Regions from separate parts of the Homo sapiens genome. Here region 2 is linked to region 1. The links come from fine-mapping of genetic effects on gene expression. Tissue or cell type: breast. Region 1 holds a variant in brackets; the other region holds the start of a gene. All regions are shown on one strand. Distances are from middle to middle.

The links. PIP is the estimated chance that this variant, and not a neighbour inherited with it, causes the effect.
Region 2: DAGLA starts here. The variant in region 1 is fine-mapped to the expression of DAGLA in breast (GTEx, PIP above 0.99).

Annotation. Positions count from the first base shown.
Region 1 is chr11:61,941,168-61,948,958 of GRCh38, forward strand. It overlaps a transcript of RAB3IL1 not described here. Among named protein-coding and RNA genes, the nearest start is that of BEST1, 5.3 kb to the right of the region's middle. RefSeq lists enhancers at 686-1,340, 2,510-3,011 and a silencer at 4,882-5,045. The variant G/A (reference allele first, on the strand shown) is at 3,560.
Region 2 is chr11:61,677,072-61,683,435 of GRCh38, forward strand. DAGLA (diacylglycerol lipase alpha) reads left to right here and starts at 3,320. Exons shown (of 20, transcript NM_006133.3): 1 at 3,320-3,433. RefSeq lists enhancers at 5,517-6,191, 6,192-6,364.

The DNA of each region.
Region 1 (7,791 bases):
AACACTATGAAAAATTGTATGACAACAAACTAGATAACCTAGATTAAATGAACAAATGCCTAGAAACCAAAACTTCCTCAAGAAGAAACAGAAAACTTGAATAGACCTCAAACACAAGATTGAATCAGTAATCAAAAAACTTCCAATAGAGAAACGATTAGGAGCAAATAAAGAATAAATGCCAATCCACAAACTGTTCCAAAAAATAGAGAAGAATATACTTCATAACCCATTCTCTTGTGCCAGTATTATCCTAAAACTAAAGCCAGACAATATCTCACAAGGAAAGAAATATAAAGACCAGGCTGGGCGTGGTGGCTCACGCCTGTAATCCCAGCAATTTGGGAGGCTGAGGCAGGTGTATCACGAGGTCAGGAGATCGAGACCATCCTGGCTAATGTGGTGAAACCCCATCTCTACTAAAAATACAAAAAATTAGCCAGGTGTGGTGGCAGGCACCTGTAGTCCCAGCTACTCGGGAAGCTGAGGCAGGAGAATGGCGTGAACCCAGGAGGCGGAGCTTGCAGTGAGCCCAGATCGCACCACTGCACTCCAGCCTGGGCAGCAGAGCAAGACTCTGTCTCAAAAAAAAGAAGGAATATACGGACCAATATCCCTTATGAATATAGATGCAAATATCCTCAACCAAATACTAGCAAATCCAATCCAGCAACATGTTAAAAAGATTATACATCGTGTCCATGTGGGATTTATCATGGGAATGCAAGCAAGGTAGTTGAACATATGAAAATCAGTGTAAAGGCCAGGCATGGTGGCTCATGCCTATAATCTTAGCACGTTGTGAGGCCTAGGCGGGCAGATCACTTGAGGTCAGAAATTTGAGACCAGCCTGGCCAGCATGGTGAAACCCCACCTCTACTAAAAATACAAAAATTAGCCAGACATGGTGGCGTGCTCCTGTAATCCCAACTACTTGGGAGGCTGAGGCAGGAGAATCGCTTGAAACCAGAAGATGGAGGTTGCAGTGAGCCATGATCGCACCACTGCACTCCAGCCTAGGCAACAAGAGCAAAACTCCGTCTCAAAACAAACAAACAAGATGTGCTTTGTTAAACAGATGCTTGAAGGCAGCATGATCGTTAAGAGTCATCACCACTCCCTAATCTCAAGTAATCAGGGACACAAACACTGTGGAAGGCCGCAGGGTCCTCTGCCTAGGAAAACCAGAGACCTTTGTTCACTTGTTTATCTGCTGACCTTCCCTCCACTATTGTCCCATGACCCTGCCAAATCCCCCTCTGTGAGAAACACCCAAGAATTATCAATAAAAAAATAAATTAAAAAACAAACAAACAAACAAACAAAAAACACCTGAGCTCAAACAATTCTCCCTCCTTGGTCTCCCCAAATGCTGGGATGACATGCATGAACCACTGCACCTGGCAAATTATGACATGATCTTATATGTAGTAAACCCTAAAGAATCCACACAAAAACTATTACAGCTAGTAAATAAATTCAGCAAAGTTACAGGATACAAGATTAATATACAAAAATCAGCTGTATTTCCATACATTAGCAATAAACAATCTGAAAATAAAATTAAGAAAATAATGCCATTTACAAAATGGAACTTTATTCTTATTAAAAAGAATAAGAGACTTCGGAATATTTTTAACCAAGAAGATGCAAGACTTGTACACTGAAAACCCTACGACAGTGGTGAATGAAACTAAAGAATACCTAAATAAATGAAAAGACATCCTATGTTCATGGATTGGAAGACTTGATGTTGTAAAGATGACTAAGTGATCTACAGACTCAGTGTAATCCCCATCAAAATTCCAACTGCGTTTTTTGCAGAAATGGGCAAGGCGATCCTAAAATTCACATGGAATTGCAATGGACCCCAAATAGCTAAAACCATCTTGAAAAAGAACAAAGTTGGAGAACTTACACTCCTGGTTTCGAAATTTCTACGTAGCTACATAATTAAAACAATGAAATATTGAAGTGACATATAGCTCAATAGAATTGATAGTCCAGAAATAAACCCATATATGTATTATCAATTGATTTTCAACATGTATGCCAAGACAAGTCAATAGGAAAGAATATGCTTTTCAACAAATATACATGGACACCTGGATAGCTACATGCAAAAGAAGAAAGTTGGACCTTTACCTCAAATGATACATAAAAATTAACTCAAAATAGGTCAAATTCCTAAATGTAAGAACTAAAGCGATAGAAGTTTTAGAAGAAAACGTACGGGTAAATCTTCATGACCTTGGATTTGACAGTGTCAAAATTTATCTAAATTAAAATTTTAATGTTTAAAATTCAAAATGAATTAAAAACTTTCATGCATCAAGGAACCTCCTCAAGAAAGTAAAAAAGATGATCTACAGAATGGGAGAAAATATTTGTAAATCACGTGCTTGATAATGGTCTAGTATCCAGAATATATAAATAATTCTAACAACAACAAGAAGGCAAACAATCCAACTGAAAAAATGGGCAAAAGACTTGGATAGACATTTCTCCAATGAGGATAAACAAACAGCCAATAAGCACATGAGAAGATACTTAACATCGTTTGCCATCTGGGAAATGAGAATCAAAACCACAATGAGATACTACTGCACACCTACTAGGATGGCTTTAGCATCAGTAAATATGTAAACACTACATACATAAGTGGAAAAGGTGAATTTTACAGGACACGGATTGCCCCTCAATATTAAAATTATAAAAAAAAGACTGGAAGGAAATACATCAAAATGATAACCTTGTTTGGGAGTTTGTTTTGTTTTGTTTTAAACTGCTCTGTAGTTTCCTAATTGTTTATAACAAGCATTTAGTCCTTTTGAATTGTAAGCAATAGTCTTAAATCTCTCTTATAGTTGTATAAAGCAGGCATACATGAATCTTCCTCCCCTCCCCTCCCTTCCTCCCTCCTTCAAAATAAATTAAAAACTTTTGTGCATCAAGGAACCTCCTCAACAAAGTAAAAAAGACGACCTACAGAATGGAGTCCTCCCTACCTCCTTCCCTTCCTTCCCTTCCTTCCTTTCCTTCCCTTCCTTCCCTCCTTCCTTCCTTCCTTCCTTCCTTCCTTCCTTCCTTCCTTCCTTCCTTCCCTCCTTTGTTGAGACAGGGTCTTGCTCTGTCACCTAGTCTGGACTGCAGTTCTGAGCTGGTGTGATCATAGCTCACTGCAGCCTCAAACTCCTGGGCTCAAGCAATCATCCGACCTCAGCCTCCCAAAATGTAGGGATTGTATGTGTGAGCCACTGCACCAGGGCAGATTCTGCATTGGTAACAAGCTTCCAAATGATGTAACTGGGCCCCAGACCTCAGTTTGAGAAGCCAGGTTCTAGAAGTCAGCAGCAGGAAGGAATGGACCAATTAAGCAAATCAGCAAAGCAGAGGGACCACAGAAAAAAGGACGATGCTCCCGGGCCCCTCCCCCGGGACATATTTACACTAAAAATTATTCACTTTTCTATCTGAAGTTCTTATTTGCCTGACTGTCCTGTAGTTGTTTTGCCAGGATGTCATCTAATGTTTGTTTTTGTTTTGGACACGGAGTTTC[G/A]CTCTTGTCAACCAGGCTGGAGTACAATGGTGCAATCTTGGCTCACTGCAACCTCTGTCTCCCGGGTTCAAGTGATTCTCCTGCCTCAGCCTCCCCGAGTAGCTGGGATTACAGGCATGCGCCACCATGCCTGGCTACTTATCTTTGTATTTTTAGTAGAGACGGGATTTTGCCATGTTGGCCAGGCTGGTCTTGAATTCCTGACCTCCCGTGATTCACCCGCCTCAGCCTCCCAAAGTGCTGGGATTACAGGTAGGAGCCACCACACCTGGCCTGGCCTGTAGTTTTATTGGCTAAGTCTGGTAGCCCTAGCATGGGTGGAGAAGGCTGTAGCTGTGGAAGCCCAGCCAGTCTGCATCTGAGGCAGGGAAAGGCAGCTAAGGCAGCCTGCCGTCAGCCCATTGACCTGACAGATAGGGGCCAATGTGGCTTACTCCTCATCTAGCCTACCCTTGTGCCGTCCTCTCCAACATCCATCCACCTGACAGATGGATGACCCTTCCTCTTCCCCAGGGGTTGTTTTGATGAGTAGATGACATTTCTAAAGAGCGCTTAGTGCACTGCCTGACACCTGGTAAGTGGTCAAGATGGGGAGAACTGATTGTTTCTACTATTCTTTCCCTCTCACAGTGGCCACCGCAGCGCTAAACACGGTCGGTCGGCATTCAGTGCTCGCCGTGGAAGCGAACCGCAGGAGCATCCTGGGGCAGCGGGGAGTTGCTGCACTCACCTAGACAGGCGGCCTACTGTGACTTCAGGCAAGTCATTTTCCTTCTCTGTGCCTCAGTTTCTTTGTCTGCAAAATGAGCAGCTGGACTAGAAACTTACCATTCTTTCACAGCACGTCAAACTCAACATGCCCATTTGAGCTGAAGACACTGAGGCTACTCACTGGGTGTGAACCTTTGACAGCATCCAGGCCCTGCACAGTTGTCTAGGAGAAGCCTGACCCATGATGTCCTTTCCGCTACCCACCTGCCACGAGCCCCAGTTCTGAGCTGGAGGGGTGGGGGTGGGTGGAAGGTGGATAGTGGTCAGTGCCTCACCTGGCCGACTGCAGCCTGGCAGAGTCCATGGGGGACCTCGCAGCACAGTGGATCCTCTTGCCTTGTGTCTCTAGTTGGTCCAGCTCTGGTCTATTCCATGCTATTCCGTTGTCATGGGCAGGACTGGGTTTGATGAAGTTGGACCTAGGTGTATCCCAGCCTCTCCTGGTTTCTGTCGTCTTTCTGTGGTGCCCAGGGCTTATGTTTCTATCTCTTTGAATGTTGAGTTTACTCCGTCCTTCAGGGATCAGGGCTGCCTGAGCTCAGGGTGGAGGTGCTGTTGTCTGTCTGGCTTCCGGGCCCTGGACTGGCAGTGTCCCCCAGCACCCCTGTCCAGCTATGCCAAGCCCCCTCCTTTTCTTTCTTGGCCTCTGCCCTATTTGTTCTGTGACTGGCCCAAGAGAGGGGTGTGGGCTGGCAGGTGTCCCACATAAAGCCTGGAGGCAGCATCCAGGCCTGGCTGACTTACCCCGGGGCCCCCTGCCTACTGCCCCCAGCCAAGCTGGGTCTCCTTCTTCCTGCCCAGCTGAGGCAGGGCCTAGAAGGGCACCGAGGCAGGCCCTCTGTGATGCTCCTGTTGCTATGGTAATTCTAGATGAGAAGGCCATAGCATTCTGTGTCTGGCACCCCCGCGCATCTCCCCAGCTCTGCCCTGCTGCCCCAAGAGATGGCTCTCTGCTGGGGAGCTCGAGAGCTTGGAATCTGCTGCAGTCAAAGTTTCTTCCATGCGGCCAGGCACAGTGGCTCATGCCTGCAATCCTAGCACTTTGGGAGGCCGAGGCGGGTGAATTACTTGAGGTCAGGAGTTCAAGACCAACCTGGCCAACATGGTGAAACCCCATCTCTACTAAAAATACAATACTTAGCCGGAAATCACTTGAACCCAGGAGGCAGATGTTGCAGTGAGCCAAGATCATGCCACTGCACTCCAGCCTGGGTAACAAAGCGAGACTCCGTCTCAAAAAAAAAAAAAAAGTATCTTTCATGCAGGCCCCATCCTTTGGACCTCCCTTCAACCCCAAGAGAGACCACTACCCTAGCAGGTAAGACTCTACCTCTCAGAAACTGACCTTTACTGTAGAGCTGATAGTGGGAAAGGGCTCAGGATCCAAAATCAAAAGACCTAGATCCTAGTCTCAAGCCATTTATAGCTGTGTGACCTTGGACAAGGCAGGCCTTGAGCTTCAGTGTCCTCCTTTGTAAAATGTGGATAAACATGCGATACTGAATCATCCTTCAGGAATAGCTCTATGACTTTCCGTAGGTTGTTCCCCTGATGTGTAATGCTCTTCCATTCTTCTCAGCTCCATGAACTCCTACTCATGCTTCAAGACCCAACCGAAATGCCCCATTGTCTGTAAAAATTTCCCTGACCTCTGTGCACTTGGCACAGATCTTAGGCCTTGCCATTCTGTGTTAGAGTTGTTATTTAAGTGTTTCCAAATTTTTTGACTATGAATACGTACAGGCAGGAATCAGATTAGGCTCAGTTCTGGAAGGAGAAATGGTTTGGCGAATATTTTCTTTGCGGAACGGAAAGCAGAAGAGGGCGACCTTGACTGGGTTGGGTGCCATCTCTGCAGGGGTCAATCCTGGGACTCTTGTTCCAGGCATGGCTTGGGTCAATCAGCACTCATGACTTTGCTGTGTGCCTGAGCCGTGCCTGGCTAACTGGGGACATTTTCATAGCTGAGACCCAGTAGGAGAGACCATGACTTGTGCCAGGGTGTGCCTGTCTCAGCTCTGGGGCAGGGCCAGGAGCAGCTGCTCATGGGATGTCTCTGGGGACATGCTGGGGCCTCTGGGAGGGGAAGGGAGACTGGCCATGCACTGTCTATGGTCCTGGTGGTACTCCTGGGATATTGCCAAGGAGCCTGCGGTTCAGGGAACAGGGAGGAGGGACTCTAGTGTCTCCAACTCCCTCTCATGGCTCTATGGCTGCTGGTCGGGGTCAGGGAGATGAAGCAGTGCCAGCTCCGTGGTCTGCACTGATCCTGACCAGTGAACCAGGCTTCCCCAGCCAGAGCCAGCTAGTCAAGCACGCTCTCTAGTGGCCACCACAGGGAAGGCAAGAACTTGTCTCCACAAAGGCAGGATTTTCATTTATTCCTTCAGAGAGTACAGAATGAGCATCAATGTTCCAGGCATGGTGCCAGGCATGTGTGTTAACTTTAGTTAAAACATACTTATTGGCCGAGTGTGGCGGCTCACTCCTGTAATCCCACCACTTTGGGAGGCCTAGGTGGGAGGACTGCTTGAACTTAGAGCTCAATACCAGCCTGGGTAATGTAGTGAGACCCTATCTCTATAAAAAAAAAAAAAATAGCTGGGTGTGGTGGTGTGCGTCTGTAGTCCCAGCGACTTGGGAGGCTGAGATGGGAGGATTGCTTGAGCCTGGGAAGTGGAGGTTGCAATGAGCCAAAATCACACCCATTGCACTCCAGCCTGGGTGACCTTGTCTCAAAAATATAGTTATATATTTACTTATATATTTATATGTATAAATATATGTGTACATACAAATATATTTGTAATATTATAGACATATTAATACATATTTACATATGTTAATATATAAATATATATAATATATATTTATCATCTTCTAAATGGAAAGCTCTTGAGTTTCAGGATGTGTTGGTTGGGAAGGGAATACAGGATAGGGAAATAATCCATTAAGCAATGACTCAGCACAGGCCATAAAATCAGAATCACCTGGAGAACTTGAACAATCCCAACACCTGGGGTCCATCCAGACCAATCAAATCAGAATTCGTAGGGGTCAGGCACAGGCACCAGTGGTTTGGAGAGTTGACGGACACATGTCCCATCCATCATTCTCATTCGGCTGCCAAGGTAGGCATCGTTGTCCCATTTTGCATATGAGGAGACTGAGGCTGAAGTGAACCTGCTTCTTTCCCCATATCAGTTGAGGACAGCGATGGGGCAGCGGGGAGGCAGTAAATACTCCTACAAGGCTGCCTCTAAAGAGAGTCTTATAATAACAACAGCTTTATTGTTTGCCATGATTAGAAAAGTATTCAAGGTCATTGCGAAATAGTGTTTTTTTTTCTAGGCAGATAATTATATAAAGGCAAAAATGGTGTGTGGGGGTGGGGGACAAGGGGAGGGAGAGCATTAGGACAAATACCTAATGCACGCAAGGCTTAAAACCTAGATGATGGG
Region 2 (6,364 bases), 260 kb before region 1:
ATGGCTCAGCCCTCAAGAAGAAGGCTTAGGTCAGTCTGTCAGGCAAAGAATCCTGACTGAATAAGAATCGGGCAGGAGACCTGCAGAACACAGAAATAAGGCGTTAGAGGATGGAATTCGCTAGTACCTTCTAGGAGTTTGTGACCAATTGCAAAAATAAAGACTGCAGTCCCTCCCTGTCTTTCCTTGCTTGTTACTAGAGTTGTTGAAGATTAAATAGTTGACCATTTCCCCCTTTAAGAAAATATGAATCACAATTTGAAAATGTTTTTGTTATCTTTCCTTTTCCTTTCACCTAACATTTATGTGTGTATGTATTTTTTTGAGAGGGAGTCTTGCTCTGTCGCTGGAGTGTAGTGGCGTGATCTCGGCTCACTGCAACCTCCGCATTCCAGGTTCAAGCGCTTCTCCTGCCTCAGCCTCCTGAGTAGCTTGGATTATAGGCGCGCGCCACCATACCCAGCTAATTTTTATATTTTTAGTAGAGACGGGGTTTCACCATGTTGGTCAGGCTGGCCTTGAACTCCTGACCTTGTGATCTGCTTGCCTCGGCCTCCCAAAGTGCTGGGATTACAGGCGTGAGCCACCACGCTGGGCCTATTTTTTTTTTTTTTTTTTTGAGACGGAGTCTCACTCTGTTGCCCAGGCTGGAGTGCAGTAGCGGGATCTCGGCTCACTGCAACCTCCACCTCCCGGGTTCAAGCAACTCTCCTGCCTCAGCCTCCCGAATAGCTGGGATTACAGGTGCCCATCACCATGCCCAGCTGATTTTTGTATTTTTAGTAGAGATGGGGTTTCACCATGTTGGTCAGGCTGGTCTTGAACTCCTGACCTCAGGTGATCCACCCGCCTCAGCCTCCCAAAGTGCTGGGATTACAGGTGTGAGCCACCGCACCCGGTCACCTAACATTTATAATAGTGGTGTTTCTCAGCCTTTCATGTGCATTCAAATCACCTGGGAATCTTGTTGCCAACCTGAGATTCTTGGGCCTGAGATTATGCATTCCCGTTAAGCTTCTGGGTGGTGCCAATGTCTCACTCTGAGTAGCAAGAGTTCAAAGGATTTGGTGATGGTAAAAGTAACCCTTTAATTCAGTTAAATGACCAGATGGGATCAATCACCTTGAAGATCTTGAAATAATAGTAGCCTCATGACATCAAGTGTGAAGGTGACTGTTGGTACTTGTCTGGTGAAGACAACTTTGGAGGAATGGGAAGAAGGACTGGCGTGTGTCGGGACACATGTGTGCACATGGACACATGTGAGTTTGTGTACATGGGACAGCTAAGGGATGGATCCGTAGTAGACAGCCTTTTTTTTTTTTTTTTTTTGAGATGGAGTCTGGCTCTCTTGCCCAGGCTAGAGTGCAATGGCACGATCTCGGCTCACTGCAACCTCTGCCTCCCACGTTCAAGTGATTCTTCCGCCTCAGCCTCCCGAGTAGCTGGGATTACAGGCACCTGCCATCATGCCAGGCTAATTTTTGTACTTTGGTAGAGATAGGGTTTCACCATGTTGGCCAGACTGGTCTCGAACTCCTGACCTCAGGTGATCCACCTGCCTCTGCCTCCCAAAGTGCTGGGATTACAGGCATGAGCCACCGCCCCTGGCCGACAGTCTTTGGACTGGCTGTTCAGGTCATGATTCTCCTCCTCTGGGAGTGTCTCTCAACGGGGAAAAGTGGACTGACATGTTTGTATCACAAAGCACTTTCTGCCCTGGCCATAGCTGATTGACCGTGGCCTGATCTGGACTAATAAGATTCTTTTTTTCTGGGAATCGGGAACTTTGAACCAAGAGACATCCAATCTGGCAGTTTTGATTCTGATTAATGGCAATGATCTAGAAAGAAGATCCCTAAACTGATACTGCTACAGTTGTCCCTTAAAGCCTCCCCTGATCTCTGCCCTTCCTGAGCCTTGAGGAATTCAACTCCTCCTTGAATCCCCTGAGGTGCCCCACTGGGTATATGCGCCCACTCCTCATTTTCCTTGTTACCTACGTGAGTTTGCTTTCTAAATAATCACAGGTAACACAGAACTCCTTCCAGAAGTGGCTCCATCTGCTTCAATAAAAGGCAGTCCTGGCCTCACAGTCTCATTTCCAACCCAAATGTCCACGTAATTTTCAGACCGAGGCTTCTGCTCAAGCCGGGCACCCCACTACCCACACCTCCTTGTTCACCTATGGCTCCCACTTCTACTGAACTGCGCGATCACTGTGATTTTGGGGGTGGCAACAGGGCCTAGGAAACATTTTAGAGGCACTTCTCTTGCCTGAAAGAAAACGTTCTTCCCCTTTTTGTCTCTGATGAATCTTTACTGGATCTTTGGGACCCAGCTGAGTCATCCCGACCTGCAGACTGGACTCCCATCCCCAGGCTTAAATTCCTTTCCAAGGGCTCTGTCTGTCCTCTCGGCTTAGCTTCTGTGTTAAAACCCCCTCCATCTGCGTCTCCTCCCCAGCAGAATGAGCTCCTTGAAGTCAGGGCCCGCCTTCTGCTCCTCTCTGTGCTCCACTCCCCCAGTTCAGCACAGTGCTCCCAGGGAGGTGTAAGCGACTTACGGTGAATGAAAGGGCGTGAAGGGGAACAGGAGGGGCGGTTTTCTTCATTTACCAGAAATTCAAAATTGACCAAGTAAACCCCTTTGGAGACCAGGCACGATGCTGGGCACTGGGAACGGGGGTAGGGGTGGGGGGTGGGGGGGTGGTAGGGAGGAGGGGGTACCCAGGGTACCCACGGGCTCTGTCGCCCGTGGGGAAGGATGGGCATTTACCCTTCCCATTCATCAGGATGGGAGGGCCACGGACTCCCCCCACGGCAGTGCCGGGTAGACCCCTGCACCACACCGTGCCAAGGCCCTTTCTCACAGTCACGCCAGGAACTCTAGCCATGCTCTGACTTCTCAAGCAGAGTTCAGTCACCCCGAGGAGGTGGGACCCGTCTCTCTCCTCCCCACAAATGAACCAGTTCTCCAGTGATCCTACTTCCTTTTTTCCCTCTCCCACGCTAAAACTGGTCACGAGGGACCTAAAGGAGGGGCAGGCACCCAGGCGGCTCCCTTCCCCGCACGCATCGCGGCCAGTCCAGCCCCTCCCGGCCGCCCACGGGACCCCAGCCGAGCCTGAGCCAGGCGCCCACCGCCCCCACGCGCAGGGCCGGCGCCCGCGGAAGACTCGGCTCTCCCTGGCCTCGACGCCGCTCCCCTCCCTGGCGCCAGGGGGCGCTGCCTCCCCACGACCGTCGCCATGGTCACCGCTGGCGGCGGAGAGGGGTTTACGTAAAGGACGCAGCGTCCCCCGGGGGGCGGAGGCGGCCTTCGCGCCGGCGCCGGCGCCCTGCGGAAGCGGCGTTAGTGAATCGGGGCCTTGGGGAGCCCAGGATGGAGGTGGCGGTCGCGGCGGCGGGCCGAGCCCTGCGGCGGGCGGGAGGTAAGGGGGGCCTCCGGCGCGGCGGGCCGGTCCTGGGCGCGGGCGCGGTGCGAGCGGCGCGGCGGGCTGGGCAGTGTCCAGGGCGCGCGGTGGCCGGCCCGACGGGTCGGCGGGCGGAGTTGCAGCTGCCACGCGCGCCCGTGGCAGGTGTGAGGTCTGTGGAGCCCCTGGCACCAGCGTGGGGATGGTGACACGCGTGGCACGGGCGTGGGCAACGTGGGTCCGGCACAGGCGGCGTGGTTTTCCTGGAACGGGTCTCAGAAGACTCGCCTCCACCTTGGTGCGGTGGTGGCCACGCAGGTGTGAGGTGGTGCAGCTGTCTGCACAGGTAGGTGATGGGCACGGCCTTCGGACTGGTTATGGGATAGGTGGCCAGCTCGTGCCGGCATGGTGGTGCCGCTAGCATGGGTGTGAGGAAGTGCTGCCATTGCTTGGGTGTTGGGATGGTTCTGGCCTTGGGCTTGACATGATCTGGGGTGATAGCACTGGGGGCTTGAAGAATTGGTGTTCTCAGCATGGCTAGAGTTCCTGGCATGACTGTGAGAAAGGGCCTTGGCACGGTGTGGTGCGGGGGGCTACCCGGCACTGCCGCGGGGGGAGTCCGTGGCCCTCCCATCCTGATGAATGGGAAGGGTAAATGCCCATCCTTCCTCACGGGCGATGAAGGGGACACTGCCTCTGTCATGGGGGTCCAGTTTTAATGCCTGTTGGGTACACTGGACTGAGGAGGGCAGAAGGCTGGGAGAAGGTTGGTGTCCTTTATAATGGGCATAAACAAGAGATGCCAGGAGAAGCTTCTACCACAAGGGCCCTGATGGTAACCCAGATAGAGACCTTCCAGGCACTACCGTTGTCCTGGGCTAAGGTAGAGAGAACCATTCATCTAGCTTTTCATCTAGCTTTGGGAATGAAGGGAGGGGTGGATGATTTTCAGTGGTGATCGGTGTCCCAGAATATGTCCTGAGAAGCAAGCAGGACCAAGAGGTAACCCGGGTCAGCGAGTGAGGGAGTGGTATGGCGCACCATCTATCTGTAGTCACGGGGTCCTGCCTTCTCCCTGGGTTGATGGGTTCACTCCAGGGTATCTGGGAGTTGCCTCTCTTCTTTGATGCTGGGGAGCCTTTGGGTCCAGAGGATTGGATCGATTGGGGTATGCTTGAAAGATGATTCTGCAGCCACTGGGAATCTGCTGGGGCCACCGGGACTCCCACCCCCAGGCTTAAATTCCTTTCCAAGGGCTCTGTCTGTCCTCTCTGCTTAGCTCCTATGTTAAAACCCCTCCATCTGCGCTGAGATTGTGTTTGCTCTCACCAGTCCTTTGGGAAGCTTTGGGTGAAGGTCTCACTCAGCATCACCTAGTGCCTTACTTTACAGAGAAGCAATTTGCAGCTCCTCCTAGAGAAGTCTTACAGTGTAGGGGAAATCTTCAGTTCTTTGTGGATCTCTTGGGGGAGTGGGATCAGTGGTAGAAGAATCACAGGGTTGAGCTTGTGCTGGGGAAGGCACTTATGAGTCCAAAAAGATGATGTTGAGGGTAGGGTGGCAGGTGGTCGCCAAATTGCCAAGGTGGGTGCTTGGAGATGCTGATGAGTTCCCTATAACCGGAGCACTGTCCGATGCCTTTGGAGCCATATCACTTTAATTCCAGTGTTGGCTGTGTGACCTTCAGCAGGTGACTTCACCAATCAAGGCATGTCACATGGTGGTCTGGTAGTAAAGAATGAAAGGAAATGGTGCACGTGGAAACACTTTGCAAACAGCGAAAGACTGTACAAAGGTCAGAGAGTCTCATCAAGTAAAGAGACCAGGGCTGGAGGCAGGAGCCATAGGAAATGGTGGCACGGGATGTGATTGGGAGGAAGGGAGCCGGAAGGTTGAGGGCCTGTCATAGGGAATTAGAGGCCCTGAGCGCACATGCTCCCGGTGGGGGCAAGTGGGATCTGTTGACACTGTGAGTCAGCTGCTGAGCTGGAACCAGGCCCCCGGTCTCCAGAGGACAGTCCTGAGCATGGCCCCGGCAGCTGTGAAGTCCTGCAGGAGTGGCCCAAGCAGGAGGAAGCACTTTGCTTGGGCAGCAGACGTGCCTCATTGCCAGGGTAGGTCTGGGAGGTGTCTGTGGCTGACAGATCTAGGGTACCTGTGTGGGAGGAAGACTTGGGAAGTGTGTGTGTTTTCTCTGGAGAATTTCCTTTGGCTCTGGGTTCTGAGAACGGGGGTGGGGAGCAGTCACATCAGCGTCTTTTGGGCTGTGGCCTGAAGGAAATGAAGTGGGTCAGAGCATCCACAGATCGATGTGGCTCAGGTCTGGATGGTTCTGCGGGAGGTTGAGGCTGGATGGCAGGGGGACGGGGGGGGGAGGTGTGGAGGATGCCCTCAGACACATAGGGGAAAGGAAAGGGGGCTACAGGCACCTCTGAGGGCAGACAGGTGTGGCACCTCTCCCAATGTGGCCCCACTTCTGGCTGAAGTGCCTTCCCAGGTGGGGAGGATGAGGGTGGCTGCACAGTGCTTTGCTCTCTGCCACCAGGAGCCTAATTCCCGACAACAAGCTGCAGAGCCTGAGTTGCAGACCCTGCCCCATGGCGCTGGAAGTCCTGTTTTTCTCTCACCCAGGCCGTTTCTTCAGCATTCCATGCGGGTGTCTGCCTTAGCCAGCAACCTGTTTCACATCCTTGCTCCCCGAGGAAAGTTTTTGCCCTGTGCCCAGGCTGCAGTGTCAAGCCATGTGGGTGGAAGGAGGACACGGCCCTCCCAGACCCAGGGTTGTGAGCTGACTTTTCCATGCTATGGACTCGCCCTGTCCCCGTAGCTGCCACGCAGACACTGTCCAGCATTGCAGGTGCTTCCCTGGTCATTCCCATGTTGGTCTGAGGGGTATCCATGGCCTGTCTCACCCGCTCCCTGCAGTGCTTCATACCTCCCCCGAGGAGT